Regions from separate parts of the Homo sapiens genome. Here region 2 is linked to region 1. Evidence: fine-mapped expression QTL. A gene starts in region 1. The other region holds a variant in brackets. All regions are shown on one strand. Distances are from middle to middle.

Region 1 (14,808 bases):
TCGAATTGAAAGAATGGCTCACACTGTACATGGTGAAGAGCAGAACCAGAAACTGAACACAGGTCAAATGCATTCAACCACAGTGAGCTGTACTGCCTTCCTGAATTCACAATGTAAAAGTCAGTCTGAGTGGACTGCAGCTGAGAAGAGAAGACAATTATCCAAAAATGTGTCCGAGGATACACTCCCAACCTATACTTTTAAAAGAATGTGATTTTTTTTTTTTTTTTTTTTGAGACAGGGTCTCACAATGTTACCCAGGTTGGAATGCAGTGGCGCAATCCCAGCTCACTGCAACCTCGACCTCCTGGGGTCAAATGATCCTTCTGCCTCAGCCTCCCGAGTAGCTGAGACTACAGATGCCCAGCACCATGCTGGGCTAATTTTTGTATTTTCAGTAGAGATGGGTTTTCGCCATGTTGGCTGGGCTGGTCTCAAACTCCTGGGCTCAGGCAATCTGCTGGCCTCAGCCTCCCAAAGTGCTGGGACTGCAGGTGTGAACCACCACGCCTGACCAACAATGTATAAATGTTTATTTTTATAAACTTTTAAGAGAGCTATCATTTTATTTTGGTTAGGTGAGGTGGCTCACACCTGTAATCCCAGCACTTTGGGAGGCTGAGACAGGTGGATCACTTGAGGTCAGGAATTCGAGACCAGCCCAGCCAACATGGCGAAACCCTGTCTCTATGAAAAATACAAAAATTAGGTAGGCTTGGTGGTGCACGCCTATAATCCCAGCTACTTGGGAGGCTAAGGCACCAGAATTGCCTGAACCCAGGAGGCAGAGGTTGCAGTGAGCTGGGATTGCACTACTGCAATTCCAGCCTGAGTGACATTATGAGACCCACTGCACTCCAGCCTGGGCAACTGAACCAGACTCTGTCTCAAAAAAAAAAAAAAATTGTATTTTGTTTACTAAAATACCTTTGTAAAAATGGGGAGGAGTCTCCTGAAACTTACGTGAATTTTCCTTATTTGAGAGAACACACCAGGTGCCCAGTACACTGGGAGAAAACACACTCATATGAAGGCACATCATTGTGATATTTTAGATCTCTGGGAAAAAGAAGGTTCAACACATTTCCAGAAGTCAGGGGGTAGAGGGAGATAAATAATTGAAATAAAAATTTTTACAGCCAGGTGCAGTGGCCCATGCCTATAATCCCAGAACTTTGGGAGGCCGAGGTGGGCAGATCACTTGAGTTCAGGAGTTCGAGACCAGCCTGAGCAACATGGCGAAACCCTGTCTCTACAAAAAATACAAAAAAATCATCCACCAGGCATGGTGGCCCATGCCTGTGGTCACAGCTGGCTTGGGAGGCTGAGGTGGGAGGATCACTTGAGCCCAGGAGGGGTAGGTTGCACTGTGATCATACCACTACACTCCAGCCTGATGACAGAGTAAGACACTGTCTCAAACAAAACAAAACAAAATTAAATCAGAATAGCTAAAGGACAATAAAAGAATACATTTTAAATTCTGAAGAAAAACATTTTCAGTCTAACACTCTCTACCTAGTTGAACTAGGAATTGTGTATAGAATCAAGCTATTCTGAAAGGTGCAAATTTCCATTTCCACATGCATGCTTTCTTAGAAAACTACAAGAGGCTGTGTGTCCCCCCAGTGGGAGCAAAGCAAGACAGAGGACACTGGACATGGGAAGCAGAGGATCCAACCCAGGAAAGAAAGGAAGAGAATCTTCAGAGTGATGGTGCAGGAGAGCCCAGTCGGCCAGCTGTGTGCAGGCCACCAGGCCAGAGGCTCCCAGAGAGGCCAGTCATGAAGACGATTCTGACAGAATACCTGATGTCTCTCAGCTTCTTGATAGGAGACTTAAACAACTAGGGTTAAATTAGTGACTAAATATCTGGAGAAATTATGAAATGAGAAAAGAGAATTACTAACACCAGGGCAAACAAGAAATTGGGCAGGAAAGGAAAAGCATTCATAGTCTACGCACTGGGTCAGTTGTAAGTGGTATTTACAGTGTCATAGGTCAACACTGGCTGCTGATCTAACCCAAATCACCTGAAGACTATACAGATGCCCCTTGACTTAACAATGAGGTTACATCCTGATAAACCCATCCTAAGTGGAAAGTATCCGAAGTCAAAAATGCATTTAATACCCCTAGCCTACCAAACATCATAGCTAAGCCTAGCCTATCTTAAACGTGCTCAGAACACTTAGGTTAGCCTACAGCTGGCAGAATCACCCAGCAGCACAGCATGCTGGAGAGGATGGGTGGTTTGCGCTGGTGATGGCATGGGTGGCTGAGAGCTGACCAGCATCATGAAAAAATATCTACCGAATATCATTAGCCTGGGAAAAGACCAAAATTCAAAATTCGAAGTATGATTTCTACTGAATGCATACTGCTTTTACAACATCTGTAAAGCTGAAAATTCCTAAGTTGAACCATCAGAAGTGTTTGGACCTATATTGGGAGACAGGAAGAGGGTATGTATAATTGGAGGCAGGGAAGAGGGCATCCCAGCTAAAGCCTCATCTTTCAGAGTAGAAAGGCAATGGATAATGTCTATGACTGGGTGGGTGAGGGAACACCAATAAACAGCATTATAAACACGTTGTTTAGAGCTCAAAGAGATGAAGACACTGGGAGAAACTTATATTTCTGCCTGTAGGACCGAATCTTTAAAATATGTGCATAAGGTGGGGCACAGTGGTTCATGCCTACAATCCCAGCACCTTAGGAGGCCAAGGCAGGAGGATTGCTTGAGCCTAGGAGTTTCAGAGCAGCCTGGGCAACACAGAGAGACCCCGTCCCTAGAAAAAAATTAAAAATTATCCAAGTGTGTTGGTGCATGCCTGTGGTCTCAGCTACTTGGGAGGCTGAGATGGGAAGATCGCTTGAGCCCAAGAGGTCAAGGCGGCAGTGAACCATGATGGTGCCACCGCACCTCAGCCTGGGAGACAGAGCAAAACCCTGTCTCAAAACAAAACAAAACAAACAAAAAAGGTGCATAATTAGCTCTGTCAAAAATAAAAACTATAGTAGTAATAAGGGTGATTTTGCTTACATGTTTTCCCATCTTTTTCAAAACGCTTAATGAAATCTAAAAGGATACATGCTAACATGTCAACAGTGATTATTTCTAGTAATGGGATTGTGGGCCACTTACATTTCTTTCACTTTTGTATTTCCTGAAAAAGCGCAGTACACAGAGCATATCGATAATAAATCAGAAAAAAACCCAAAGGCGTTATACTTCATGCCTGGCCCAAATCCACCCCAAGGTAGAAGGCCCATCTCTGTCATTTTAGCTTTTGTTTGCGCTGCTGAAGCAGAGGAGCCTGCCAACTCCTTCATTTGCACAGCAAATATTTGTTGAACTCCTAAAAGCTAGGCCCTGCAAGGCGATTCCAATACCTTCAGCTTTTGAGTCTCCTGAAGTCCTCAATACTCGCTGAGGGAACCAGCTGGGAGAGGAGCTAAGCCAACACTTCTCATACCTTATGTGCATTATGACCACCAGGGGCTTCATAGAGCAGGTCCGGGTGGTATCTGAGACTGGGGGAGCAAGCAAGCTACTTGAGGTACACAAGATTTACTTCAGGTTTCTCAAAGGAACCGCCCAGGTCTTCAGTCACTTCTGCACCATGATGGTGTGCCCATTCTCTAACTCCCACATAGGCTCATTTTCAATTCCCAAATATTTAACAAAAGTCTGTGAGAGATGACAGAGGGGCACTGCTGGGGCAGCTGGAAGCTGTCTCAACTGCTTGCAGTTATGAGCACGGCCCTGCAGAAAGGCAGGCCTGGGTTTGAATCCATGCTTCACCATCCACCGGTGTGATTTACGTCCCCTCTCTAGGCCTTCACAGGGGAGGGTGGTCGTTGGATTACACGAGGGTATGAGGACATCTAAAGGGCTTGACAAGATCCTGGTACACGAAGAAGACTCAAACAGTGACCACCTCTAACTGCTGACAGGACTCCAGTCCTTTCTCAGCTATGAAGGACTGGCTGGGACTTCTGGGAAGATCACGTGAGTTTTCAGCCTCTATGCCCTCCAATGAAGAGAAGAACGCCCATGCCCTGCCTCCTTCCCAGGAATGTTCTGAGCCTAAACCAGGATGTGCACAGCACCATGCAAAAGACCTCTTTGGTCCTAAAATAGGTTATGGCACTCAGATTTTATTCAGTAAAATTTTCCTGACTCACCTCAATGTTACTACCAGGGAGATAATTAGGAAAAGAAAGAAGCCCTTTCCTCTTCCCCTGATCTTAGGAAGCTTTATTTTCAGGGAGGAGGCCATCCACGTGGAGATCAGGTGAGAAAGGCACCAGGTGTCTCTGACACTCAACACAAACTCAATAGCCACTAAGCCAAGCTTCCTGCTCCCAGGATCTGCCGCCGCCACCGAGAGGACCCAACAAGCTGAATTTCTCCCACAGCAAGACATCCTGAGGATCACAACCCTTTCTTCCCAGGACAGCCCGAGTTTCCTGGACCTTGTTTAGAGTCTTTCACTTTGGGAAGAAGGCGAGGCTGAGCAAAAACGGTTCCCTAAAGCCCGCGGGAAGATCTGAGCAGGCTCCATCCCGAGAAGCACGGCGGAAGCACGCGCCGGGGTCCAGCTGAGCCCCCCGCCACCCCCGGCCCGTCGGCACTCACGATCTCGGCCACGATGAGGAAGCCGGGCAGGGTGCGGAGGAACTCCCGGTCGTAGGCGAAGCTGCTGCTGCTGGTGGAGAAGTTCTCTGCGAAGGAGCTGGCGGTGGTGGTGACTGTGTGCGAGCGGGCGCGCTGCGGCTCCTCCATCGTCGAGCCACTGCCGGGCTGGCGCGTCCCCAGGGACCCCGGCGGGTCTGGGGCTGGACGCGCGGCCCTGCGCCCTGGGGACACAGGCGCGGGGGAGGGGAGCGCGGCCCGCGCGGGGCAGGAGGTGCGAGGGGGGCGCCCGCCGGGGGCTGTCCAGGCGCGGCGGGTGTCCCTCTAGTGCGCGGTGCCCCTAGCGCCTCGGTGCGCGGGCTCCCGAGCTGCGCTGGGGCCCTAGAGGAAGAGGAGAGCGAGCGAGGGGAGGCTGCCGGGCAGCCGGGGAAGGCGGTGGAGGCCCGGAGGAGGGGAGGGGGCGGGGAGAGGGGCGGGCGGGAGGCGGGCAGGAGAGGGACCGCCCCGCGGAGGCGCCGCGGACGCCCGCCCTCTTCACCTGTTGCCCGACTCCCAGCGGCGGAGAAGGCGCCGCGTCGCACCCAGGGTGGCTGGGTTGGCAGCCTGGCGGGCGGCGCGGAGGAGAGGGCGCAGGGGTCCTTCTGGCCGTCTTCCGCTCCCCCTCCCGGCCTTTACTTCTGTCAGGCCCCGCCTGGCCCAGGCCCGCAGCCTGTTTCCTTCCACCTGGGCGGGTCGGGGGCTGCGGGCATTGGGGCCCCTTAAGGAAACCCAGGCCTCCAGGGACTCCGCCGCTCCAGGACTCGGCGCGGAGGGAATGACTGAGCGACGACCGAGGCAGGGGGTGATGTGGTACCTCGAATGCTGTGGAAATGGCAGGAATGATGACCCGGCCGGACCTTAGACCCGAGATCGATGAGAGGCCGCCAGCACTGCCCGGGAGACGGCCCGCTCTTCTCCCCCTCCTGCTGCGGCCGCCGCCAGAGCCCGGTGTTATTTCCTGCCCCTCCTGTCGGGAACAATTTGAGGAACCAACTTAATCGCTTGGCTTTGAGGGCGCGACGCTTCCAGGCGCTCTCCGCGGCTCTGTCCCGCGGACCGGTGGAGCCTGGGTGACGGCGCCTGGGCCGGAGGAGGGGAGATGTTTGGGGTCCCTGGCCAGGATGAATCAGCGTAACCGTCCCGTCACCCTCGGGGAAAAAAAATGTTTCAAGAAGGCTTGAAGGGTGTGATTTGTGTAATGTTAACTTTAGGACAAATGAGCTGTGCTTTCCTGGCATGGGAAGGGGATGGGGGTCCTCATTTAGTGAGGCAGTTTGTAACAGGGTCAGGGAAGAACTGAGCTCGGCTGCGTGCGTTTATCGGCTGTATGACCCAGAGCGAGTGGCTCTAGTTTTTGGACCTCAGTAATGCCATCTCTAAAATGCAGGCTTTGACAGATGGACCTCTGAACAAAAAGATTATCTTCCGCTTGGTCCCTCCTTCTATTTTGTGAAAGGGTAGCAAGAAACATTTTATCTGGAAGCCACCAAAAGAAAAGGAAATAATCTTTGGCTATAAATCGAGGGTATCTTTGATTCACAGTGAAGGCATTTCTGCTGATCTGTTCCAAGACAGGTTAAAAACGAGATCAGAAGGGACATTTTCTTCACAGTGTCTTATCAAGTGTGCTGAGAAGAAAGCAAAAACGACAATCTAATAAAATAAAACAAGGAATTAGTGTCTTTTAAGTCTAGGGCCTAGCCAGGAAGACCTCCAGGAGTAAAAGTTAAGGCTTCAAAAGCATGGCAAAGATGTAGATTTGGAGAGATTCCATCCATGTGCATTTGGTAAGCACCTTGGGCTGGTGGGTAAATTCTTAAAATTTAAAATATAGCACTTCTCCCTGGAGCAGTAGTTCTCAAAGTGGTCCTTGGACCAACAGCAGGTAAGTTCCCTGGGAACTTATCAAAAATGCAAGGTCTCAAGCCCCACCCCCAGACCCTCTGAATCAGAAACTCTGAGGGTGGAGCCAGGAAGCTGTGTTTGAACAAGCCCTCCAAAAGACACTGATGCATGCTGAAGTTAGCTGCTGCTTTAGAGAAACTGTTAATGAGTTTGGGGAAATAAGAGATACATACATGAAATGGCTGGAGGAGACTCAAGCATTATGCATGACATTTAGTGAACGTAAAAGACGGAGTCTAGACAACTTTATTTCCATAATATTAACAAAGGACAATCCTCTCTTAAAATTCCTGGGGTCAGATGAATTTCTAAATTCAGATTTTGTTTTTCAATTTAGAAAGGTAAAATGTGCATGTACCATATATTACATAATACCTTTGGTAAGGTCTGGGGTGACACTCTAATATACTAATTTTCTGCAAGGGAAATCATGAATGACATAAGTGTATGCTTGGATTATCTACTGCAATGTAATAAATGTTCACAAAATATTAGTGGCTTAAAATCACCATTTTATTTGCTCAGAAATCTGTTGTGTCAGGAATTTGGGAAGGGCTTGGCTGGCAGGTTCTTCTGCTTTGCATGGTGTGATTGGAGTCATTTACTCAGCTGCTTTCAGTTGGTGACTTGGCAGGGCCAGAAAGTCCAAAAAGTCTTCATTCCCATTTGAGCATTTCAGTGCCCTTTCAACTTGGGCTTTCTAACAGTATGATAAGCTCATGGTGGTTGGACTTCTACCTGGCAGCTGGCTACTGGAAGAGACTTTCTAAGAGGGGCAAATGCAGAAGCAGATCTCTTAAGGCCCAGCCCTGAAGGTTACACGGACTCATTTCCACCACATTCTATTGGTCTAAGCCAATGAATGACAAGGCCAGCCAGAGTCACGCAGAGGGGAAACAGATACCACCTGTGGATGGGAGGAGCAGTAAAGAATTGTGGCTGTCTTTTAATCTAGGTGAGATAAAGACAAAGACAATAAATAGCTTCACATCTGTTTAGGTTATGTTTTTCTACCAAATATGTTTTCTGCAAGCTCAGGAAAAAAAATTTTGGTTTCAGCTTTTGGGATTTCAGAATCACAGAGAAAAAATTATACACTGGTTGCTTGAAAACTAGCTGCCCCTTTCCAACTGCTGCCTACATTTGGGTGATTATCTTCCACCTGAAACTCTACTGATTGGTGCCCATTCTTCCAATAACACCCTTATCCAGTCCACCTTCCGTCTTCCTGCAAGAATTATTGTCCTGAAACCCCAGACTAAGGTACCACTGTGCACAGCATAAGGGCCTATATAAGATATTCAGCCTATCTCTTCTGATCCCTTTTCTCAACCACTTTAGAATGCATACTGTTTCAGCCCCAGATACACTTTGTATATATCACTGTAAGTGTGACCACTTTATGCCCATAGCCAGCTTTTCTCTTAGCCTACAAAGCCTCCCACCTTCACACACAGCTCACAATCTGCAGTCTTCATGGCCCATTTTAAATGCCACCTTTTCTGTGGTTTCTTTGGATTTCCATGAGCTGTTGTTATTTTCTTTTTTGTTTTAGAATTCATTGACTTTATGCACTTCTTTTACAACTTCTCAAGATATATGAATTACCCTTCCTTGTCTGCCCCCTGCTATAGGAGGTATTGAACAAATGCTGAGGCCCAAACTTTTTTTTTTTTTTTTGGAGACAGGGTCTTGTTCTGTCACCCAGGCTGGAGTGCAGTGGCATAGTCACAGCTCACTGCAGCCTTGACCTCCTAGGCTTAAGCAATCCTCCCCACTCAGCCACCTGAGTAGCTGGGACTACAGGCAGGCACAACTACATCCAGCTAATTTGTTTTTTATCCTTTGTAGAGGTGAGGTCCCACTTAGTTGCCCAGGCTGGTCTCAAATTCCTAAACTCAAGTGATCTTCCCACCTCAGCCTCCCAAAGTGCTGGGATTACAGGCATGAGCCACCATGCTGGCTCCAAGCTTCATTCTTAAGTGCAGAAAAATGTCAAAAGAAAAGCTAAGCCCTGGGCTCCCATAATGACTTAACACAGAAGACAGCTTCAAGCTGAGACTTGTGGGAAGTATTTGATTTGTAAAAATGGAGAAGAAAATGGAAACAGGTACAGCCCAAGTGATACCACATGTGCCAGGATGAGCAGGTCCTGTGCAAATTAGTACAGAAAAATCTAAGATCTGTTAGCATGGAGTGTAGGGTTAAGGGTTTATGCAGAGTCTAAAATATGGATGCCACAAGGCCATATTACTCAACCAACCAAAGTCATAAGACACAGCACTCTCAAAGGTCTGTAGGGCCCAGGCCATTCAATGGAAGCCCAGGACTCATTAATAATTGAAAGAAATAAATGGACAGCTTATGACTTCCACCTGCTCTCTGAGAAAGAGAGGATCAAGGGACATTCCCATTTTTTAGGTAATTTTCATAGGTTTATGTTTCTCTTCACTGTTATTCTAATTTTAAATTATGGTGGTTTCATTCAAGAATCATCAATGAATGTTAAAATTAGTGGGTGAAAGTGTGATGAGAAAAAGGATATTTACATCATCTCTTAAAAAATAGAAGTAACAAAATAACAAAAAGATATATCATTTCAAAGTCTTCAGAGGATACTATTCTCCCTTTGAAATTCATAACTGTACAGTGGAGAAACCTTTGGGATATCACCAGACATTATGTACCTCCTAATATGATGTAGTGAGATGGATACAACATCACTTCTGTGATATTCTTACCAAATGCATAACCTGAATTTAATCATGAGGAGGGAGCAGACAGACTGAAATTGAGGGACAGTTTATTAAGTGTCAAGTTCATGAAAGACAAACACTAAGGAACTGTTCCATACTAAAAGAGACTAAGGAGACCTGACAATGAAATGCAATGTGACATCCTGGATTAGAGCCTGGGCTGGAAAAAGAACAATAGTGGGACAATTGGTGAAATTAGAATACATTGTGTAGATCAGATAAACATTGTATCAGTGTTACATTGATACAATGACATTGTATTAGTGTTAATTTCGTGATTTTGATACTTATACTTAAATAAGTGTTAACATTTTGAGTATCAGTAAAAGCTTATATAAAATCTTTTTACTATTTTCCCAACTTTTTTTTTTTTTTGGAGATGGAGTCTCGTTCTGTTGCCCAGGCTGCAACCTCCACCTCCTGGGTTCAAGTAACTCTCCTGCCTCAGCCTCCCGAGTAGCTGGGACTACAGGCGCCCACCACCACGCCCGGCTAATTTTTTGTATTTTCAGTAGAGATGGGGTTTCACCGTGTTGCCCAGGCTGGTCTTGAACTCCTGAGCTCAGGCAATCCGCCCTCCTTGGCCTCCCGAAGTGCTAGGATTACAGGTGTGAGTCACCATGGCCGGCCTATTTTTGCAACTTTTTAAAGACTGAAATTGTTTCAAAAAGAAAAGTTAAGAAAATAAAAATAATTACTCATGATTGATTAAAAATAGAGCTGTCTAATCCAAACAGTAGTTCACACTCTCCAGGCACATTGGATTCTGTGGTTTATCCATCTTAGAACGTCCTGCCTCCCTTCATCTTGCTATTAATACCTGTCTTATAGCGAAAGAAAACAGGAGCTTGGCTGAGAAGTAAGAGTGTTCTTCCCACTCCAGTCCCCAAAGCCACCGGTCAGCCTAGTCCATCTTCAATTTGAAAATAGGAAGAGATGGAACCTAAATCCATTCAGTAATGAACTTTTGGATCTCGGGTGGGTTTGAGTTCCAAGAGGCTCTGTCAATTTGACCAGAGGTTTTAAGCCCAAATGACAACAGGGTTAGGCATATAAGGTAAGAAAATAAGTGATTTGGGCCAGACTGTTTTCAGAATGGCCTCTTGAATTGTATTCTTCTGAACCAGACACATTTGGGCTTACATATTAACTTTGTATCAAATTCTTCACTTACGCAAAGAGTACATTCACTTTATTTTTCTCAAAACATATGACCTCCTGGGTCTCACTCTCATTTTTTTCTTTAGTTTGAGACATAGGGACAAGAAATATTTCACTTTCCTCTTCCTATGAGGAAAATAACACTTGGAGAAACTGTGAATGTCATGAAATCAGCCCCAACGTTTGAACTCAGCTGGGGCAGAATAGGGAGTTGGGGCGGGCGCAGGGGTGTTTGTGGCGAACAGGAGCACGAATGCTCGAAAGGGGCCATCTCAGTTTCTGCCCCACCTGATTATTGCCTTGTAAGAATTTGGGCCTAGTGTTGACAGAAATCCCAATTTTTATTAATTAATATTGGCAGCTAGTATCCTTTATTTTAAAACACAGTGTGTCGCCTTTGTGGGCCAAACAAACATATCTGAGAACCATCAGTTGATGCCTTCTGATTCAGGCAAAGCAAGAAGACTTTCTCTTCTCTCTCCAGCTGCCTCAGACTCCCACCTCCCTGCAAGGCCCTCCAGAGGCCTCAGAGGACACAAAATTTGGGTCAAGAGGGTGACGCTTAAGAGCAGAGTAGCTGGAGGAAATATTTAGAAGAGTGGTGAATAAAACGTGAAACAAATGGGATGCTGCTAATGGCAGAAGAGGGCTTTCTGAACCAGGGAAGTTTCAGATTGGGAGACTATGGAGGGATGTTAAGAATTAACTTATTTAGAAGTAGGCATTCTTAGAAGATGTAATAATAACTAATTTATTGTTGGCCTATTTTGTGCCAAGCACTATCTTAACTCTTTGAATAATTTTATTAGGTAACTGATTTTAAAAAAAATTTTTCTGTGTTGGGGCAGTGGCTCATGCCTGTAATGCCAGCACTTTGGGAAGGCGAGGTGGGCGGATTGCTTGAACCCAGGAGTTCAAGACCAGTCTAGGCAACATGGTGAAACCCTGTCTCTACAGAAAATACAAAAATTAGCTGGATGTGGTGGTGCATACCTGTAGTCCCAGCTACTCACTTGGGAGGCTGAGGTGGGAGGATCTAGCCCGGGAGGTTGAGGCTGCAGTGAGCCATGATTGTGGCATTGCACTCCAGCCTGGGAAACAGAGCAAGACCCTGTCTCTTTAAAAAAAAATTCTTAGGAGTCTTGACCTTAATGAGAAAGATGGATTTCTCAAAGTTCTTAGCTGCATCCATTGGCTCAACATTTATTTATCTAATATGCCACTCACTATTAAAATACACAACTCAATAAGACACTATCCCTTCCCTTAATGAATAGGTCATCAAGTGAATGAGAGAGACCAGTACATCAGTGATGGGTGGGACCCCTGCCAGGCCACAGGTGGGCCCAGGGCCACCCCCATGTAAGGGGAGGACAGTGAGGTCAGCCTGGGGCTCAGGCAGTTTCCTCAAGGAGCAGCCATTTAAACTATTTTCAAGGGCTATTCAAAGTTAGCTAAGGAAAGAACAAGGGGACAGGGGAGGAAATTCTAGAAAGAGGGACACAACCTGTCCCAACAAGATGCATTATGACCAGTGTGTTTGCTGAGAAATGCAGCTAGAGGGAGTTTCAACCCTCTACCCCCGCAGCATAGGAGACAATGGGTCATCCCTGTTCCCTCTCCATTCCTTCAATAAATGTTCAGTAAATTGTACTTGGCAAAGGGCAAGATGTGGAGAAATTCCATGAATGAGCATTTATGAAGCTTGAGGTCAAACCATACTCCCATCCTGTTCCAGATAGGGAAAGGGCACAGGGTATGTGTGTGTATATATATGTGTGTGTGTGTGTGTGTGTGTGTGTGTGTGTATAATCTTAGAAGGGTGAAATACTTGAGTCTTTTCCTGGTCTTCAGACTTTTTACTTTTTTTTAGCAATTACTGTGACAAATCAGTAGAAAATTTAAATTTTTATATATATTTAAATGTATACACACATACATTTTTCCACAAAAATCAATAAGAGGACTAGAGGATGGGGTGGGGGTGGGTGGATACACACAGTTAACTTTGTCCTTTGTAGGGTGGCTTAGTTAACCCCAATCAGGTTGCAGAGCAGAAAATAACTGAGGTTTATTGAAGAAAGGGCATGTTTACCTGAAACAGGTCTTGAAGGGGCCCATTCAAAGAAGGAAACAGCATAAATGACAAAGCAGATGGAAACCCATGAATGACTGTGTTTGAGGATGAAGCCCAAGTGAGATGGACATTGGTTTTAGAGAAAAGATCATCTGAGTTTGGAGGAGCTGCTCTAGGAGTTCTGTGGAATGATGGGAAATCACAAGGCAGTGGCTGCTAAAAATACCTTGTGCATGTTAATAGCACCTTGTCGAAAATCCACGGGCCAAAACCTACAGGCTTTATTTGTATTTTACTCACAAAAATTCTAGGCCCCCTTAAAAGTTCTTGGAAAAGGTGAATATGAAGGTCCTAAAGCTAACGCCTTTTTCTGCCCAAGGAGGAGCAGGAACCTGTCCATCCAAAGCTGACAACTTCTAAAGAAGTGCCACGATAGTTGCAAATTGAAATCAGAAGCACATCAAAAAACTGGACAGCAGACGAGGCATGGCATCTAATGCCTATACTCTCAGCACTTTGGGAGGCTGAGGTGGGCTGATCGCTTGAGCCCAGGAGTTTGAGACCAGCTTGGACAACATGGTGAAACCCCCCATCTTTACAAAAACAAAAAACCCCCAAAAAATTAGCCGGACATGGTGGCACATACCTGTAGTTCCAGCTACTCAGGAGGCTGAGGCAGGAGAATCGCTTGAGCCTGGGAGGTTGAGGTTGCAGTGAGCCACAGTTTCACTACTGCACTCCCTGGTGACAGAGGGAGACCCTGTCTCAAAAAAAAAAAAACAAAAAAACAAAACAGAGTAATTACACCCAAAACATGCCTCACCAGAAGACTCTCCGAAAGGAACACATTAGGCAAGCAGTTTATGGAGTGGTTATTTGCTTACCAGGTTCTTTTGCTGTAGAAAGAATTAATTGGAGGGCTCTTCTGAGCCAAAGGAGCCAACAAACATTTAAGTGTTTGTTTATGGACAGTAAACTATTTGAGGAGACAAGATGGAGCTGAGAAATTTAAAGGTGGCTAGGGTCTTTATCTAAAGAGTCACCACCAAGTAACATCAATAAAACATCAACTTTGTACAAAAGATATATTTAAGTATGCATTCTTGAAGAGTTACTGGCAAATAAAAGGTAAAATGTATTACAAGGTTTTTCTGGAAATTCTATTGCCTATCTTTTATAATGCCAAGAATCACTCCTTTGTTTTTTAATTTCCATGTTCAAATCCACTTTGCTGGAAGGTAAGTAACTGGTCCTTTGGGCCCAGCCTGTGGTTGCTTTGGGAGTTGGGGGAGAGGCTTTGGGCCGGGGTAGCAAGGCCTCCATTGCACAAGCTGAAGTAATGTTAGCATTAGGTGTATGACTGCATGACAAACTGTTCCTCCCCTCTCTTGACGTGGTGAATCTGTAACCAGAAAAGCCAGTTAGATCTCCTGACACATTCGGAGGGTGGAGGCTGGTGGGGAAGGAGCAGGGGATGCCTTCATGGGAGCTGCGCTATCACAGTGGTGAGTCCTGATGCCTTGCCTGTGAGGGCCTTCACAACCTTCAGAGCATGATGGCATTGCCAGAGAGAAGAGAATTCACCATGGACACCTAGCCTAGTGCCTGGCAGATGGTAAGCATTCAACAAGATCTGGAGAGAGAATGGGGTTAAAAAACGTGGTACTTTTCATAAAGTCAGAATATTATGAGGCCTCCAAATATGGCATTGTGGACAGGTGAGATCCAACTGGGCACTGAGCCTCACATATTGTTATTATTTTTCTTCTCTCAATCTCTAGGAATGGTGCACATTCGCTTTATCACACAAGGAGGAGTTTTATGTAGGGTTTTTTTGTTTGTTTTGTGTTTTTTGAGACAGAGTTTCACTCTTGTTGCCCAGGCTGGAGGGCAATGGCGGGATCTCAGCTCACTGCAACCTCTGCTTCTGGATTCAAGTGATTCTCCTGCCTCAGCCTCCCAAGTAGCTGGGATTACAGGTATGCGCCACCAAGCCTGGCTAATTTTTGTATTTTTAGTGGAGACAGGGTTTCACCACATTGGTCAGGCTGCTTTCAAACTCCTGACCTCAGGTGATCCACCCTCCTCAGCCTCCGAAAGTGCTGGGATTACAGGTGTGAGCCACCACGCCTGGCTGTGTTTTGTTTTTGTTTGAGACAGAGTCTCACTTTGTTGCTCAGGCTAGAGTGCAGTGGTGCAATCATAGCTCACTGTAGCCTCGACCTGCT
Region 2 (16,798 bases), 47 kb before region 1:
CATCCCTGTATTAAAGCTTGGTAGAATGCAGTCTAAACTGACAACCTACCTGCTTCACTTTCTAGCTATGTAGCTTTGGATAAGTTACTTAACATTTCTAAGGCTCAACTTCCTCATTTATATAAGGGAGAAATTATCTCATGGGGTTGTTTTGAGGGGAGTAAGTGCCTAATGACTTGTCAACAATTGACCTTCAATAAATTTTCTTCTCGGCTGGGCACGGTGGCTCACGCCTGTAATCCCAGCACTTTGGGAGGCCGAGGCGGGCGGATCACGAGGTCAGGAGATCGAGACCATCCCGGCTAACACGGTGAAACCCTGTCTCTACTAAAAAAATACAACAACAACAAAAAAATTAGCCAGATGTGGTGGCGGGCACCTGTAGTCCCAGCTACTCAGGAGGCTGAGGCAGGAGAATGGCGTGAACCCGGGGGGCAGAGCTTGCAGTGAGCCAAGATTGTGCCACTGCACTCCAGACTGAGAGAGAGAACGAGACTCTGTATTAAAAAAAAAAAAAATTTCTTCTCTACTCAAACTCACCTTTGCCTCTCATCTCCCATTTATCCTACATATTGCTAGTGGTAAAATCTTGAAAATAAAATTGGCCAGGCACAGCGGTTCACGCCTGTAATCCCAGCACTGTGGGAGGCTGAGGTGGGTGGATCACTTGGGATTCAGAGTTCAAGACCAGCCTGGGCAACATGGCAAAACCCCGTGTCTTGAAAAAATACAAAAATGAGCCAGCCTCGTAATTCTTCGACCATTTCACACTAGCTGCTACAAGCCTTTGCTGGGCTGTGAGATTAGTTGGCCTGCACTTGGTCTAACCAGATGCTTATATAATCAGTCTGCCTTGTTCCTCTGTCATTAGCCCATGACAAATGATTGTAACTCAGTATAAATGTGACTGCAAACACAAACACAAGTGTCTAGCCTGAAATCACCCAGAAGCCCTTGGGCAAATTTTAAATTCCAGAATTTGCTTGTATTGTTAAAATAACAGAAAAATTTGTTTTTAATACTTGAAAATACAAACACCGGCCCTAGCCTGAGAAACAGCAGCAGGTTGGATCAGGTCTAAACTCCATGTTCCAGCACCAAAGTCCTCCAAAGCTGGCCTTGGACTACCTGTTTCACATATAACACATTTTAGAAGCAGCTTAATATACATGTACATTATCCATACTCATACAAAATTGTGATTTGAATTATAATTACATTGAATGTGTTTATTTAGGAACTGACATCTTACAATACTGATGCTTCCCATTCATGAAAATGGTACAGCTTCCCATTTATTTAGATCTTTATCTTTCAATGAAGTTTCTAGGTTTGCTCCATAAAGGTAATATATAAAGTTTTAGAAATATTTGCAAACTGTTTATTGTTTGTGTACAGAAGTGGAATTGACTTTTGTATTATGACTTATATTAAGCAATCATGCTGAACACTATTTTGTAAATTCTCTTGGATTTTTGTCGTAGATAATATGATTATGAATAATGACTGTTTGTTTTTCTTTTCTTTTCTTTTTTTTGAGACAGGGTCTCACTCTGTCATCCAGGCTGCAGTACAATGGCACAATCTCAGCTCACTACAGCCTTGACCAGGCTCATGTGATCCTCCCAAGTAGCTGGGGCTACAGGTGTGCACCACTACACCTGGCTAATTTTTGTATATTTTGTAGAGATGGGGTTTCACCATGTTGCCCAGGCTGACCTTGAACTTCTAAGCTCGAGCAATCTACCGGCCTCGGCCTCCTAAAGTGCTGGGATTACAGGTGTGCACCATCATGACTGGCCTCCTTTTTCCCCCATCCTTGTATTTCTTATTCTTGTCTTACTACACTGGTTAGGGCCTCCAGGGCCTACGATGAATATAAATGGTAATAAGATCCTTATGTTCCTGATTTTATAAAAGAAAGCTTCTAATGTTTCATCACTAAGTATGGTATTTGCTGGAGGTTTGGGTGGCTGGTCCCACATTTTCTATGCATCTATTTCAGTTAGACTGGCTTTCTTGTTAATATACTAGCATACTGGCATCACTGCTAATATTATTACCTCAGGTAATATTTCAGGTATTGTGCTCAATACTTACTGTATATTCTCTCCCCTCTCCTAGCCTGGAAGGATCTCTCCCTTCTTTTCTACTATCCATCCTTCAAGGCTCCTTTCTGATCCCACCTCCTCCAGGAAGCCTTCTTTGACACCATGGCTCTCTGAAGCTTCCTGATTTCCTACTCATTTGGGGAAAAGTCATCAGAGTTTGTCTTAGAGGCCATAGAGTATACAGCAGAGTTCATTCTCAAACTTGAGGCCCAAAAGACAGTTTTGTTTAGCACACATAGTGTTGGTTAATTCAGTGTTCTGAGAATTTTTAAAGAGAAGGTTAATCAGGAGATTTTAAATTAAAATTCAGATTTAGGGCATCTCTGAAAAATTAGATCCGTTATCGTTGGGGCTTTCACTTCTTTATGGGCACAATCAGCTGTAGCCAAGTAGCAGTGACCTCTTCAGACAGAAGTTTCAATCTCTGGTTCATCACAAACCCACTGCTCCCTGTTGCCTTATAACGTGCTTTGCTCATATATTCTGCCTTCCTGGCCCCTGTATGCAGCTGATTTTGTGACTTCCGGTAAAAAAGAAACTGCAAGACACAAAGTACCACATGGTGGCTTTGTCACTTACTGGTATAATCTTAGGCAAGTCACTAACTTTTTGAGCCTTTTCATGGTTTCCTCACCATGAAAATGAGCTAATGGCATGTACCTCAACTAATTCATAGTTATAGGAAATTCGACTGAGATAGCTCACTGGAAACCAAAAGGTGCTTTAGAAATGACAGCTGCGGCCAGATATAGTGGCTCACGCCTGTAATCCCAGCACTTTGGGAGGCCAAGGCGGGCATATCACGAGGTCAGGAGATCGAGAACATCCTGGCTAACATGGTGAAATGCCGTCTCTACTAAAAATACAAAAAATTAGCTGGGCGTGGTGGTGGGCGCCTGTAGTCCTAGCTACTCAGGAGGCTGAGGCAGGGGAGTTGTTTGAACCAGGAAGGTGGAGGTTGCAGTGAGCTGAGATTGTGCCACTGCACTGCAGCCTGGGTGATAGAGCAAGACTCCATTTCAAAAAAAAAATGATAGCTGTATAGCCTACTCAACACAGTGAGACCCCCATCTCTACAAAAAAGTTTTTAAAAAATTAGCTGGGTGTGGTGGGTGCCTGTAGTGCCAGCTACTTGGGAGGCTGAGGTGGGAGGATCACTTGAGTTCAGCAGTTCAAGGTTACGGTGGGCGATCATGTCACTGAACTCTACCCTGAGTGACAGAGTAAGTCCCTGTCTCTAAAAAATAAAGAAATGATAGCTGTATTTTCTTCTACTTACTCTCATATATGAAAGTCAGCTCCTCAATTAAGTTGTAAGCTCCTTGAGAGCAAGGACCCATCATCTAAAATCCTGTGTTAGCAGAGTCCTGAACACAGAGAAACAAAGATGTTGTCAAAAGACCATGGATTGCAAGTCAGGCCAACTGTGTTCAGATTCCAGGTCTACCTATTTGATATCTGGAAAGTGACTTAATCTTCCAGAACTTTAGTTTTATGATCCGTAATAAAACATGTCAAATAAATATAATGTATCGTGTGAATTAAGATTTTGTAAATACTTTTTTTTTAAAGCCATAAACGGATCATCTCTCTCTTGCCAAACTTCAAGCACGGAATACTGTCTTGTGAGGGGCAGCTGGCATATGAACATATTTCCAGATTCTTTAGTGGTTTTCCTTATAATCCTACCAGCAGCCTCCAGATAATTTTCCTATCTCCTTCACTCACAACCAAAGCCTGAATCAATATCTCTTCTGCCATCTCCATATGGTTGAGGGAATACATTAAATAATGGCGGACACATAAAATAATGTGCACTTTTATTCAAATAATAATTTTCTAAAATATTTATTTGGATTCTCACAATCTAATCGACCACAGAAGGCATTTGTGTATTCTAATAAAGCCTTATTTCCCTAACTCTCATGTTTTCATTTAACTTTACTCTGAATTGGCACTTCCTTGTAATTCCTATTATACATAAAGACAAAATATACAACTTTTCTAGATTTCACCCAACCTATATTAAAATTTATTTGAACACTACAAAAATAAATCAGTTAGTAATAGTTTAATGGTATTAACAGCTGAAGGATTTCAAGATTTTAAGAGTGAGGGCAGTATCACATTGGTCCTTAACCTGTTTAGGAGCAAAATATCTGAGGGTTTTAGGTAAAACTTGGAAAACAAAATTTATGACTCTGTAACATTTTAATTCTTATGAAGACAAAAAATTGAAGAAAAACTTCAAATTCAGAGGAGTAAATGGCTGTGTGTCTGAAAGAATGTAGATGATCTTACCTTATGTAGATTCAAACATTATTAAGAAGGTGCCCAATAAAAATGATGGGTAAGTGCCAGACACCTTAAATTGTTTCATTTTAGTCCTCAAAGCAACTTTGTAATGGATTGGGTCAGTATAACCACTTTAGACAAAAAAAGGAACAGCTATTAGCTAACCCCAAATTAAGCAAAGCAGCCACAAATAGGCTGCCACTGCACCTCACCATTCCACCTTTAAAGCAGAAGAAACCAAGTTTCAGAGGGCCTTGAGAGATCTGCCCACGCTCAGAGCCGAGAGGCTATCAGGCAGGGCTGGAGCCCACATCTATCTGCCCTTTCCGGCAGACAAGTGCACCTGGACAACACGCTACAGCAAGCTTGTCCAACCTGCGGCCCTCGGGCTGCATACAGCCCAAGATGGCTTCGAATGCAGCCCAACACAAATTTGTAAGCTTTCTTAAAACATGAGTTTTTTTGCGCCCTTTTTTTTCAGCTCATCAGCTACCGTTAGTGTTAGTGTATTTTATATGTGGCCCAAGACAATTCTTCTTCTTTCAGTGTGGCCCAGGGGAGCCAAAAGATTGGACAGCCCTGCTCTACAGCAAGCTGCCTAGAGCTGAGAACATGTGTGTTACGCCTTCCTATGGGAAATGGTGCCAATCCTACAAAGCCTCCCATGCAAAATGCAGGCTGGGTTTATCTGGGCCACAGGAGCAGCCTTCCTCCCAGCCCAGAGAGAAACTCATTGCACAGATCTGGTTTTGTGGGGAACATTAACTTTGCCACCAAATTATATAGTTTCCACAGCTTCTTCGTTTACCCCAGCGGCCAGCAGTGTGGAGAAGGAGCTTGCCAAAAGTGACAGTGCCCATCACAGTGCACAAACTGTGGACCTGAGGCCACATCTAGCCCACCACCTATAAGCTAAGAGAGATTTTTATATATTGAAATGGTTGGAAAGAATTCAAATTTCAGGTTCATAAAAAAATTATTTTTAATTTGCAATTTAAAAGATTTTAAGTTGCATTTTTAAATGCACCACACTCATTCATGTACCGATTGTCTCTGGCTGCGTTTGTGCTACAGTGGCAGAGGTGGGCCGCTACAACAGAGACTGCATGCTCTGCAAAGCCCAAGCCACTACTATCTGACCCTTGACGGAAAAAGTCTGCCGCCTCCGGAAGTTGAGTGTTTGCTTGCAGAAGGCCCTGAGCTTTAGCTACATTATACACATTTAATTCTCCCATCGTCCTGACAGGGAGGTATTGACCTAACTGCAGACCGCCTGAGAGAATTTAAGTCACCTGTGTCCATAACTATTCTTTCATCCAAACATCTGACTTCAAAACACAGGTGCCACACACTGTGCTAGGAGACAGAGAATTTAGCAGTGAACAAAACAGACTCAGCTTCTGCTTTCTCCTGGGGGAGAAAGGCACAGAGCAAATAGGTAGTTAAGAATTACGTTAAATGCCAGGAGAAAAAAGTCACCTCTCAGCTGGGGTAATGGGGGATTCAACACAACTCTGTTGCCAAGGCCCTGCTTTTTAATTATAGACTCATAAACAGTGCAGAGAGGTGTTATACATCCATCACCCAATTTATCTAATTAGTGGCACCTTATGTAACTACAGTACTTTATCACAACCAGGAAACCAAAATGAGCGCAATACACTTCACATAGATTTCACCCATTTTTACGTGTACTACTAGTATTATTATTAATTTAATTTTTTTTTTTTTTGAGATAGAATCTCGCTCTGTCACCCAGGCTGGAGTGTAGTGGCGTCATCTTGGCTCACCACAACCTGCCTTCCAGGTTCAAGCAATTTTCATGTGTCAGCCTTCTGAGTAGCTTAAATTACACGTGTGTGCCAACACGCCCAGTTGATTTTTGTATTTTTAGTAGAGATGGGGTTTCACCATGTTGCCCAGGCTGGTCTCAAACTCCTGGCCTCAAGTGATCCATCCGCCTCGGCCTCCCAAAGTGCTGAGATTACGGGCGTGAGCCACTGCACCCAGCCACTGCACCACTATTATTTTTTGTGGTATATTTTTGTGTATAATTCTATGCAAGGTCCCTGCTTTTTACTACTATATTACATAATCCCAAATTGAACCACCTCTAGCATGTACCCAAAGTGGCCCTGAAAGCAGTAACATTTAGGGACTGTTCTCTACCCTCCCTGAGGAATTTCCATTTGCTCTTGAACCAGGTCATATGAGGAAAAGGTGTGTACCTTGATCACCTTCGCTGGGGCCTCTCAGACTCTGCATTAAACTGCTCATCAAAGTCAGGACTTCAGTTTTCCCCCTTACAAGGAAAGCCACATGAATCCTGCGTCTGCATTTCTCCCAATTTTCTTGAGAACAAGACCGAGGACACCACTCAAAATTCCTAATATAATCGCCCACATGAGAGAACTCTCAAAATAGAACCAGGAAAAAACAAAAACAAAAACCTTTCCCTCAAACAACTGACAGGCTTCTTCCTTTCTTGTAAGAAGAACTGTAAAGCCATTCATTTATACAGTAAAATATTTATTGAGTTCCTCCTGGCTTCCAGGTACTGGAGTACAAAGATGAACAGACACAGTTCATGCCCTCTGTGAGCTGTGATCACAGGTCGGTGCTGGAGACAGGCACCAATCACCTAGAATGTCTACTCAAAGTCCTATGTCCACTTTTAAATGATACTATATAGTTGGCTACTCGGATTTTTCAATAGATAACCCAATGTGATGACTAAAGGGGAAAAATTATGAGATATAATGCAAAGGCTGGTAGAAGGTGAGGACAAGGTGAGGCAGCCCCACTCCGCTTCCCTGGGCACTGGGCTGGCAGAGGGCATCCAGCTGCATGTGATTCCCCTCGCAGATCCCGACTTAACTCTCAAGACTCCCTCACTGCTTCCTCCTGTTCTTTCAGGCCAGGTTTCTTGTTTTCCACTCTTGTTTTGTTAAATCTAAGTGTATATATTTTTTTGTTATTGTTGTTTATTTTTGAGACGGAGTCTCGCTCTGTTGCCCAGGCTGGAGTGCAGTGGCACAATCTCTGCTCACTGAAACCTCTGCCTCCCGGGCTCAAATGATTCTCATGCCTCAGCCTCCCAAGTAGCTGGGACTACAGGCATGTGCCACCACACCCAGCTGATTTTTTGTACTTTTAGTAGAGACAGGGTTTCACCATGTTGGCCAGGCTGGTCTCGAACTCCTGACCTCAGGTGATCCGCCCACCTCGGCTCCCCCAAAGTGCTGGAATTACAGGCGTGAGGCACTGTGCCCAGCCCTAAGTGTATATTTGTGTGTGGGTTTATGTATACTCATAAAGCTATTTCAAATCCTTTTTGGAAAGAAGTGGGCTATAAATATTTACAAATGGAGTTTCAGAAAAGATACCACAGTCATCTGAACACACCTAGAGCACTGTTTTCTGGCCATAAACTACGAGCACATCTGAGTGCCTGCCTGGATTG[C/T]CTCATTTCTTGCTTATTCCTCCTCGGGGCCTTCCTGACATCTTAGTTCTCCAAGTGTGGAGGGTGGGACAGAGGGGAGGGGATGTATGTGTGCATGTAAAAAACAAGTTGTTTTTTGTGTCAAGATAAATCCTGAAAGGCAGACACAGTAAACATCCTGCTATGTAGGAGAGACCCATATGACGGTCAACTGCCCGGCCTGAAATGCCTAGACGTGTCCCGGGATCAATGGCACCTCAGTAAACTGTCGCCATCCTGTTCCGCAGGCTCCAGCTCATGCATGGGGAAGGAAGCTAACTCCCGGGGGACGTGCTGGTCACATTACATGCGCCTGCGATGTGAGCTCCCCGACTGCAGCACAGAAGCCAGATAGCAAGCGCTCAGTCTGAAGAGAAGAAACTCAAATGACTCTTCCCCCAATTGGAGCCAATTCACAAAGTTTTGCTGTATGACACGTTATAACATGATAAAACGGACTATCCCAAGGTGGAAAAGACAGAGAAATGTAAATACAGTAACAACAGTAATAGCAGGGACAAGATGACCACATGCTTCCCAAGGCTAAAGCAGGGATTCTCAACTTTTTTCATTATCATGCTCCCCCTAAGCATTTATAAACATTTCCTCCCCCTGTATGAAAAACTATTTTTCTTTCAACATTTATTTAGTGCGTGTTATGTGCAATTTAAGTACTAGGGATACAGCAATGAAAAATACAGTTTCTACTCTCACATAACTCATGTTCTAGTGGAAGCATCAGACCAAAAAAACAGTACATACATCAGATGGTAACAAATGCTATGGAAAAATACTAGGCAGGCTAAGGAGATAAGGGTTAACTTATTACACAGAATGTTCAGGGAAAGGAGGTGCTGAAATAAGACCTGGAGAAAGTGGGTTCTAGGCAGGGAGAAGAGAAAATACAAACACCTAGAGCTGGAGCATGCTTGCTGTGTCACAAAAGCAGCAAGGGGGCCAGAGCAGCTCACCCAGGAGTGGAGCGCAGGATATAAGGTCAGAGAGGTAAGGGAGGAACCCATGGGGTCTTGCAGACTGAAACTGAACAGACTGGCTCTCTCACTCCAAATGCAATGGGAAGTGGAATATCATGACACATCTTACCAGGATATCTCTGGCTGTTGTGCTGAGAGCAGACCGGTGTAGGGGGTCGGTTATAGGCAGGGAAATCAGCTAAGAGGCAATATAAAAATAATACAAGAGAGGATGTTAGTTTGGCTGAGGGTGATAATACTGCAGGTGGTAAGAATTGATAACATTCTGGGTATATATTTTTTTAATTTTTTTCTAATATCGCCAAATCACCATTCTCATAGCTAAAAATAATTAATGATAATATCCAATATCCAGTCAATATTCAAATAACCCTGATCATCTCATAATTATTTTATGGTTGCTTGGATCAATATCCAAATATGGTACATATATTGCAACTGACTTTTATCTCATAAATCTCTTTTAATCTATAGGCATCTCCTCTATTCCTTTTTCTTTAAAATTTATTTTTTGAAAAAACTGGGTCATTTGTCCCGTACACACAATCTAGATTTTGCTGACTGTGTCCTCATGGGTTCTTTTAATATGTTTCTCTGTTCTCTGTATTAACCCAAAACTGATACTTAGCCTGAGTTGCCTATGAGACATATCAGAAGAGATGGTGAGTGGGCAGATACAAATCTGGGATCCAGGGGAGAAGTCTAGGCTGGGGCTAGAAATGAGGACCTATAGAGAGAGTTGAAAGCCATGATTCTGAGGGAATGAGTGTAGACGGAAAAGAGGAATGTTCTAAGGCCTGAGCCCTGGCACTCTTGTATTTACAGTTGGGGAGATAAGGAGGCACCAGGAAAGAAGATGAGGTACACATCCAGTGAGATAAGAAAAAAAAATTAGGACAGTGACCTTTGAAGCCAAGAAAATAAGATATTTAAAGGATTGAGGGGAGGGGTCAACTGTGTCAATGTGGCCTTCAGGCTCAGTATGATAAGCACTGAAAGTTGACCATTTGGCTTGGCAAAACAGACGTCACTGGTGCCCTTGGTAAGAGCTGTTTGGGTAGACTAGTGACAAGGCTGATTGGAGAGGGTTCAGTCAGGAGCAGGTGGGATGAGAGGAATTAGGAAATAAAGACAACTCATTCAAGAAGTTTTGCTGCAAGGTGGAGCAGAGAAAAAAGGTGACAACTGTTGAAGAATGAGGGACATATCTTCTGGAGGGAAGATATGTTACAGTTTTCAAGATGGCATTCATCACAGCATATTATCTCCAGGAAATTTTAACATCTCAGATAAACTGTCTATTTAGATACTACATGTATATATGTACTTTATTCATTTAAAAAAGGTAAGATTTCCCTCCCTACCCCCAAGAACCAGTTTTTGCTCCCTTGCAAGCAACACCACCCCTTGATGAGAATGCATGTGCTAAATTAATCAAAACGTTCCAAGAGAAGAGACGAATCCAGCTGCCTGACTCTTCCAACTTTTATTAATGTAAAGAGTTCTTTTGATGGGTAAGAGAAATATTTTCAGGTACAGTGTAGCCACTAGAGAGGTGCCAGGGAAAACAGAGCTTACAGCTAAACATGTGCTCCTACACAAAATCCTGCCATGGTGGGCCTACAAGGTATCTCTACATACTAATAGTCATACACAGGAGCATCAAACCTCAGGATTGTCCCCATGCAGAGATGGGGCTTGGGGAGTTCCAGGATAACTCCCTTCAGAAATAGTTGGGTGCACTGAATTAACAGTCTACCATTTAGAGTCAGGAAGATCTGGTGTGAATCCCACTTCTGCCGCCTCCTGGTTGTGACCTTAGGTCACGATAATCTCTCTCACCCTCAGCTGCTTTATTTATAAAATGAGACAAAGGTAGTTCCAAATATAATTGTCACTTTTTTTTTTTTTTTTTTTTTTTTGCCTATTTTCTCTCGTGTTGGAGACCTACCTTTCCTTCAATGTAATTTGAGTAGGGTCGACTCCACCCCAGGTACCAGAAGTAGACAGATGACCCAGGTATGGCCAGACTACTTATGTTACCAGTGACGGGTCTTGACTGTGAGTCATCCAGGTTCTTGGCACTTTGAGCAAAGAATTGGACAAAACACACAAATGAAGCAATGAAACTACAGATTTTTGAAACGAAAGCACACTCCACAGTATGGGAGTGGGCTCAAGCATGCTGGTTATGGAATTTTCTGGGGTTTAAATACCTTCTAGAGGTTTCTCACTGGTTACTTGGTTACAGCCTATGTAAATAAAGAAGTGGCCCATGACCAGTCTGATTGATTGCAGAAGGCAACCAATCAAAGGCTGAAGTGAAGTTACAAAGTTATACCCCTATGCAAATAAAGACTAGGCCCACGACCAGTCTGATTGGTTGCAGAAGGGGACCAATCAGAGTACTTTCCATTTTCCATCTGCCACGAAGAAAAAGTGGGTGGGGGTGCAAAGGAAGTAGCTTATGATCCTTTTGTTACTTGGGCATGGAAAGTTGGGGTTTTCCTTTTAATTCCATTCTAGGAAATCAGCGTGAATCAGCCTTAGGTTCCCTGCTTCCAGACCCTATTCTCCCCCCTCACTTATGCCTGGCCACATTGACTGGACTGAGAATGGCCATGTGACCTGAGCTAGGTCAATCAGGGACTTCCTCCTGATTGGTGGCCACTACGAAGTGCTTGGTTACCACTATGAAGCAATAGATTTATGGTTTCTTAAAAAAATCACTAATTATATTGACAGTGGGGTGTTAAAGTCTCCCATTATTAATAACAGACACTTCTCAAAAGAAGACATTTATGCAGCCAAAAAACACATGAAAAAATGCTCATCATCACTGGCCATCAGAGAAATGCAAATCAAAACCACTATGAGATATCATCTCACACCAGTTAGAATGGCAATCATTAAAAAGTCAGGAAGCAACAGGTGCTGGAGAGGATGTGGAGAAATAGGAACACTTTTACACTGTTGGTGGGACTGTAAACTAGTTCAACCATTGTGGAAGTCAGTGTGGCGATTCCTCAGGGATCTAGAACTAGAAATACCATTTGACCCAGCCATCCCATTACTGGGTATATACCCAAATGACTATAAATCATGCTGCTATAAAGACACATGCACACGTATGTTTATTGCGGCATTATTCACAATAGCAAAGACTTGGAACCAACCCAAATGTCCAACAATGATAGACTGGATTAAGAAAATGTGGCACATATACACCATGGAATACTATGCAGCCAGAAAAAATGATGAGTTCATGTCCTTTGTAGGGACATGGATGAAATTGGAAACCATCATTCTCAGTAAACTATCGCAAGAACAAAAAACCAAACACCGCATATTCTCACTCATAGGTGGGAATTGAACAATGAGATCACAAGGACACAGGAAGGGGAATATCACACTCTGGGGACGGTGGTGGGGTCGGGGGAGGGGGGAGGGATAGCAGTGGGAGATATACCTAATGATAGATGACACGTTGGTGGGTGCAGCGCACCAGCATGGCACATGTATACATATGTAACTAACCTGCACAATGTGCACATGTACCCTAAAACTTAAAGTATAATAAAAAAAAAATTAAAAAAAAAAATCACTAATTATAAGAAAAATACAGAACCGTGGGTGGCATCTTTGTCATCATCATGCAGAGAAACTCTTTCTAAGAATGAAGCTTATTCAGAAGAAAGCACAGCCAAGACACTGAGAAGAGAGACTGAGTCCTGCTATCTATTGAACTCCTGGTTCCAGCCATACCTGAGGCTTGACACATAGCTCAGCTTGTCAGATACACGAGCCAGTAAGTGCTCCTCCTTTTTGTTGTCATGGAAGCCAATTTAGCCACGTTTCCATCATCTACAGCTGTACAGGCTGTGACTAATACACTATTTCACTGTTAGATATTAAAAATGCTTTTAAGTTCTAGGAAGTGTCTTTCACTGAATGAACACTCAGTAAACAGGACTGACCCTTAGTCTGTTATGTACCCAGTGCTGTTCTGGGCATCAAGTATATAAAGGTAAGTAAACTAAAAGGTATTATGTAAAATTGGCAGCTTATATATTAGGATGGTTAACAGAGATAACTCAATTTGGGAAGGGAAGCATGGGGCTGCGTTATCCTGAGAAGGAGTTTGCCAGGCCTGAAAGGGAGGCCAGGTAATTCTAAACAGAGGCGGCAACAAATATAAAAGCATGGAGGTGTGTTGAAAGAGATGATCAGGGCACAGCTGAGAATGCAAACTCAAATGCCTACAGGGACCAAGCAGGTAACATAAATGAGTGAAACACATCAGTTACAAGAAAATAAATGACAATGACTCTTGACCTCAATTACGGGAAGACTGGAGAGAGCTGAGAATAGCAGCAAATAGGTGACTGCAAGGCCCCTCACAGCACAGAATATAGTTTGTCCATACCATCCGCTCTCACATTCTGCCTTTAGTAAGAAGTGGGTTTTAACTATTCACATGGCCACGTAGATGAGGACCACATTTCCCCAGCTTCATCTGCAGTCAGATGTGGCCATGCTGTACATTCTGACCAACAGGATGCCAGAGGAAATGATACATGTAACTTCCAGGTTGGATCTTGAAGAAAGGGATCCTCTACTTCTCCATCCTACTGAAGGCTGGAGCAGACAGGATGGTGGGAAATGAAGCAGTATCTTGGATCAGAAGATGGAACCCACTGCAGAGAACAGGGAAAACCGACAGAAGTGGGCAGCGTCTCTGACACCACGGAGCTATCATGTCTGCCCTGGGCAATTAGTGCTTTGACTGTCATGACAGAAAAACAAGTTTCCACCTTGTTTAAGCCACTTGTTTTGGTCTTTGTCACAACAGTCAAACATGCATCTTGACCAACACTCTTACATGCAGAGGGCAGCCACTTCTTGGCTCCAAAGGATTACTGCCATGAGGAACTATGGGCTCAGTATTGTGCATTTGTCCAATTTTCCAAGAGATCATGGAAATCTAGATTTTCTTATAATATCTGATATTTACTTACTGGCAACTAATTCTGATTTTCAACACTGTATAGGCCAACACAACTGGTCTGGGGCCCAGTATCATTTCTGGTCCACAGGCCTCTCCAAAATAAAGACTTCATTGGAACAAGTAACATAACTTCGGGTAATAGAGTCCTTTGAGTTTGGACAACACAACACAGTTCCCGCAAACTCTCATCACCCTCAAATGCAGTCCCACTCCCTGGAGAATAAGCCAGATGTGGTGGCACACACCTGTAATACCAGCTACTTGGGAGGTTGAGGCAGGAGGATCACCTGAGCCCAGGAGTTTGAGTCTAGCCTGGGTAACATAGTGAGACTCTGTCTCAACAAAAAAAGAAAAAAAAAAGGAAAATAAAAAAAGAAAGAAAGACAAAGGGAGAATCCTTGGAAAATGGACAGACAAAACCTCTAAGTCAGCAGCAGCAACCACCGTGGGGCCTTACTTGCCCACAGCCTCACCATGTAGGGCCTCCCTGGACACCAGTAGCCTTTATCAGGATTAAACTCTGTTCCTTTCTCTTCTCCCTTTCTCTCCTTTTCAAGACTAAATAATTTCTCAGGGCTGGGAGTGTTGGAGCATACCTGTAGCTCCAGCTACGTGGAAGGCTGAGGTGGGAGGATTACTTGAGCCCAGGAGCTCAAGACTGGCCTGGGCAACATGGTGAGACCCCAATCTCTACAAAAAAAATAGTAACTTAGCCGGGGATGGTGGGATGTGCCTGTAGTCCCAGCTTATTGGGAGGTCGAGGCAAGAGGATTCCTTGAGCCAAGTTCAAGGATGCAGGGCACTATGATTGTGCCGCTGCACTCTAGCCTGGGTGACAGAGTGAGACCCCATCTCAAAAAAAAAAAATTTCTCAGGAGACAGGGCTAGATATTAGAATCATGAAGCAAGAAAACAGCAGGTGAAAAAGGCATCCCTCAGTTTGATATGGAAGGTCTGGCAGCCTCACCAAACAAGTTCATCCAGACAAACAGCTTCATGAAGGAGGAGTGGGAGGTGGCATAAAGGAAGACACAGAAGGTGCAACATCCAAAGCTCATTTTGTGGGAACCATTGACGACACGGGTTACAAGAAAACAACCAAAGTGGCATCAGCATTGCCTGGGGCCCCAGCTAATACTCCCCTCCAAAGAACAAAGATCTTGTGTGGCGCAATTTCAGCTGAGCCCAGCTTTCTCCTCTGGATTCAGATAAAGCACCCATGCAAAGGTCCATGGCTAGCCACAGGCAATTACTCTAATTGCCAGCCAAGCAGTGCCAGCATGAAGGTATTTCTCATACAAGTTCAAACCACTTGCTATCCTCTCAAGTCAAAATAAACATCAAGGAAATATCCACGGCATTGCTGTTGCACAATGAGAATAAAAACAATCATGTTACAGGAAAAGAAGTTCCTGTTTATAAGGCCCACTGCCCTCTAGGGAGCTGCTTCTGGTTTGGTGAGAAGTCTTTTCTCTGCACCCCCTCACTGAATTAAGATACACAGTTTGGAGGTAGGAGCTGGAGAGAGTTTCCCTGAACAACAGAAGGAGAAGGATTTGGAGAGGAGGAGGACGAGTAACCCAGGAGGGAAGGGAGACAAAACAGAAGGGGAGAAGAATGGAATAGGAGGTCGGTCTGCATTCTCTAAAAGCCTCTGTACCCGTCATTGGTCAACATCTAAAACCAACCCACCACTGGGACCAGTGAGCTTCTTACGGACACCAGAGATGGATGACAGCAAAGGATAAAGGAGGTGGGTGAGATGGCAGAAAAGGGCAAGAGAATACGGGCTCTTTGGGAATTAACTGAAGTACATACGAGTGGTAACTCACACCTGTGATCCCAGACTTTGGGAGGCTGAGTCAGGCAGATCACTTGAGGCCAGGAGTTTAAGACCAGCCTGGCCAACATAGCGAAACCCCATCTCTCCTAAAAATACAAAAATTAGCCAGGCATGGTGATGCACACCTGTAATCCCAGTTACTCTGGAGGCTGAGGCGTGAGAATTGCTTGAGCCCTGGAGGTGGAGGTTGCAGTGAGCTGTGGTCACACTATCACACTCCAGCCTGGGTGACACAGCAAGACTCTGTCCCCAAAAAAAAAAAAAAAAAAAAAAGGAAGTACATGGGGGGCCTTTGTGCTCCTCACACAGATTCTGAGCGATTTCACCAATACCTTTGAGGGACAGAGCGGCCCCCATGCCATTTGGATACTATCATCTCCCCCAGAACAAGGGTTATGAGTTCTTACAATGCGCCAGTGCTAAACAATTTACATGAATTTGCATTTGATTCTTTCAATAATCTTAAGAAGTGGGTATTATTAGACATATTTTACAGATGCTTTAACATGTTAAATATTTCACTTAAGATCACAGAGCTAATAGCAGCAGGGCCAAGACTCAAAGCCAAGTCTGTTTGTCTCCAAATTCTGTGTCATTCTGCTCAGAAAAAGATCACATTTAGCTTGCAGAAAAGCAGCACTTTGGGAGGCCAAGATGGGTAGACTGCTTGAGCTCAGGAGTTCGAGACCAGCCTGAGTAACATGGCAAAACCCTGTCTCCACAAAAAAAAAAACCAAACACCCAAGTTAGCCAGGTGTGGTGGTGCACACCTGTAGTCCCAGCTACTTGGGAGGCTGAGGTGGGAGGACTGCTTGAGCCTTGGGAGGTTGAGGCTGCAGTGAGCCATGATTGCACCACTGCATTCAAGCCAGGGCGACTGAGTGAGACTCTGTCTTTTAAAAAAGAAAAGTGATTATAGTTTTATTCACTAATCACAATATACACTGACATCCCAAGCCCCTTGATGTATGGTACTAAGAAGGACAAACATCACTTCAGTGGGATTTCTGCCAACAACACATAACCTGAATCTACTCATGAGGAAACACCACACACACATAATTT

Evidence for each region. PIP is the estimated chance that this variant, and not a neighbour inherited with it, causes the effect.
Region 2: its variant is fine-mapped to the expression of CMTM8 in whole blood (GTEx, PIP above 0.99).

What each region holds. Positions count from the first base shown.
Region 1 is chr3:32,228,957-32,243,764 of GRCh38, reverse strand. CMTM8 (CKLF like MARVEL transmembrane domain containing 8) reads right to left here and starts at 5,085. Exons shown (of 4, transcript NM_178868.5): 1 at 4,646-5,085. The coding sequence starts at 4,792. RefSeq lists a silencer at 5,072-5,281.
Region 2 is chr3:32,274,853-32,291,650 of GRCh38, reverse strand. The region is part of intron 1 of CMTM8 (CKLF like MARVEL transmembrane domain containing 8); the gene reads right to left. Among named protein-coding and RNA genes, the nearest start is that of CMTM8, 45 kb to the right of the region's middle. RefSeq lists an enhancer at 2,553-2,602. The variant C/T (reference allele first, on the strand shown) is at 7,870.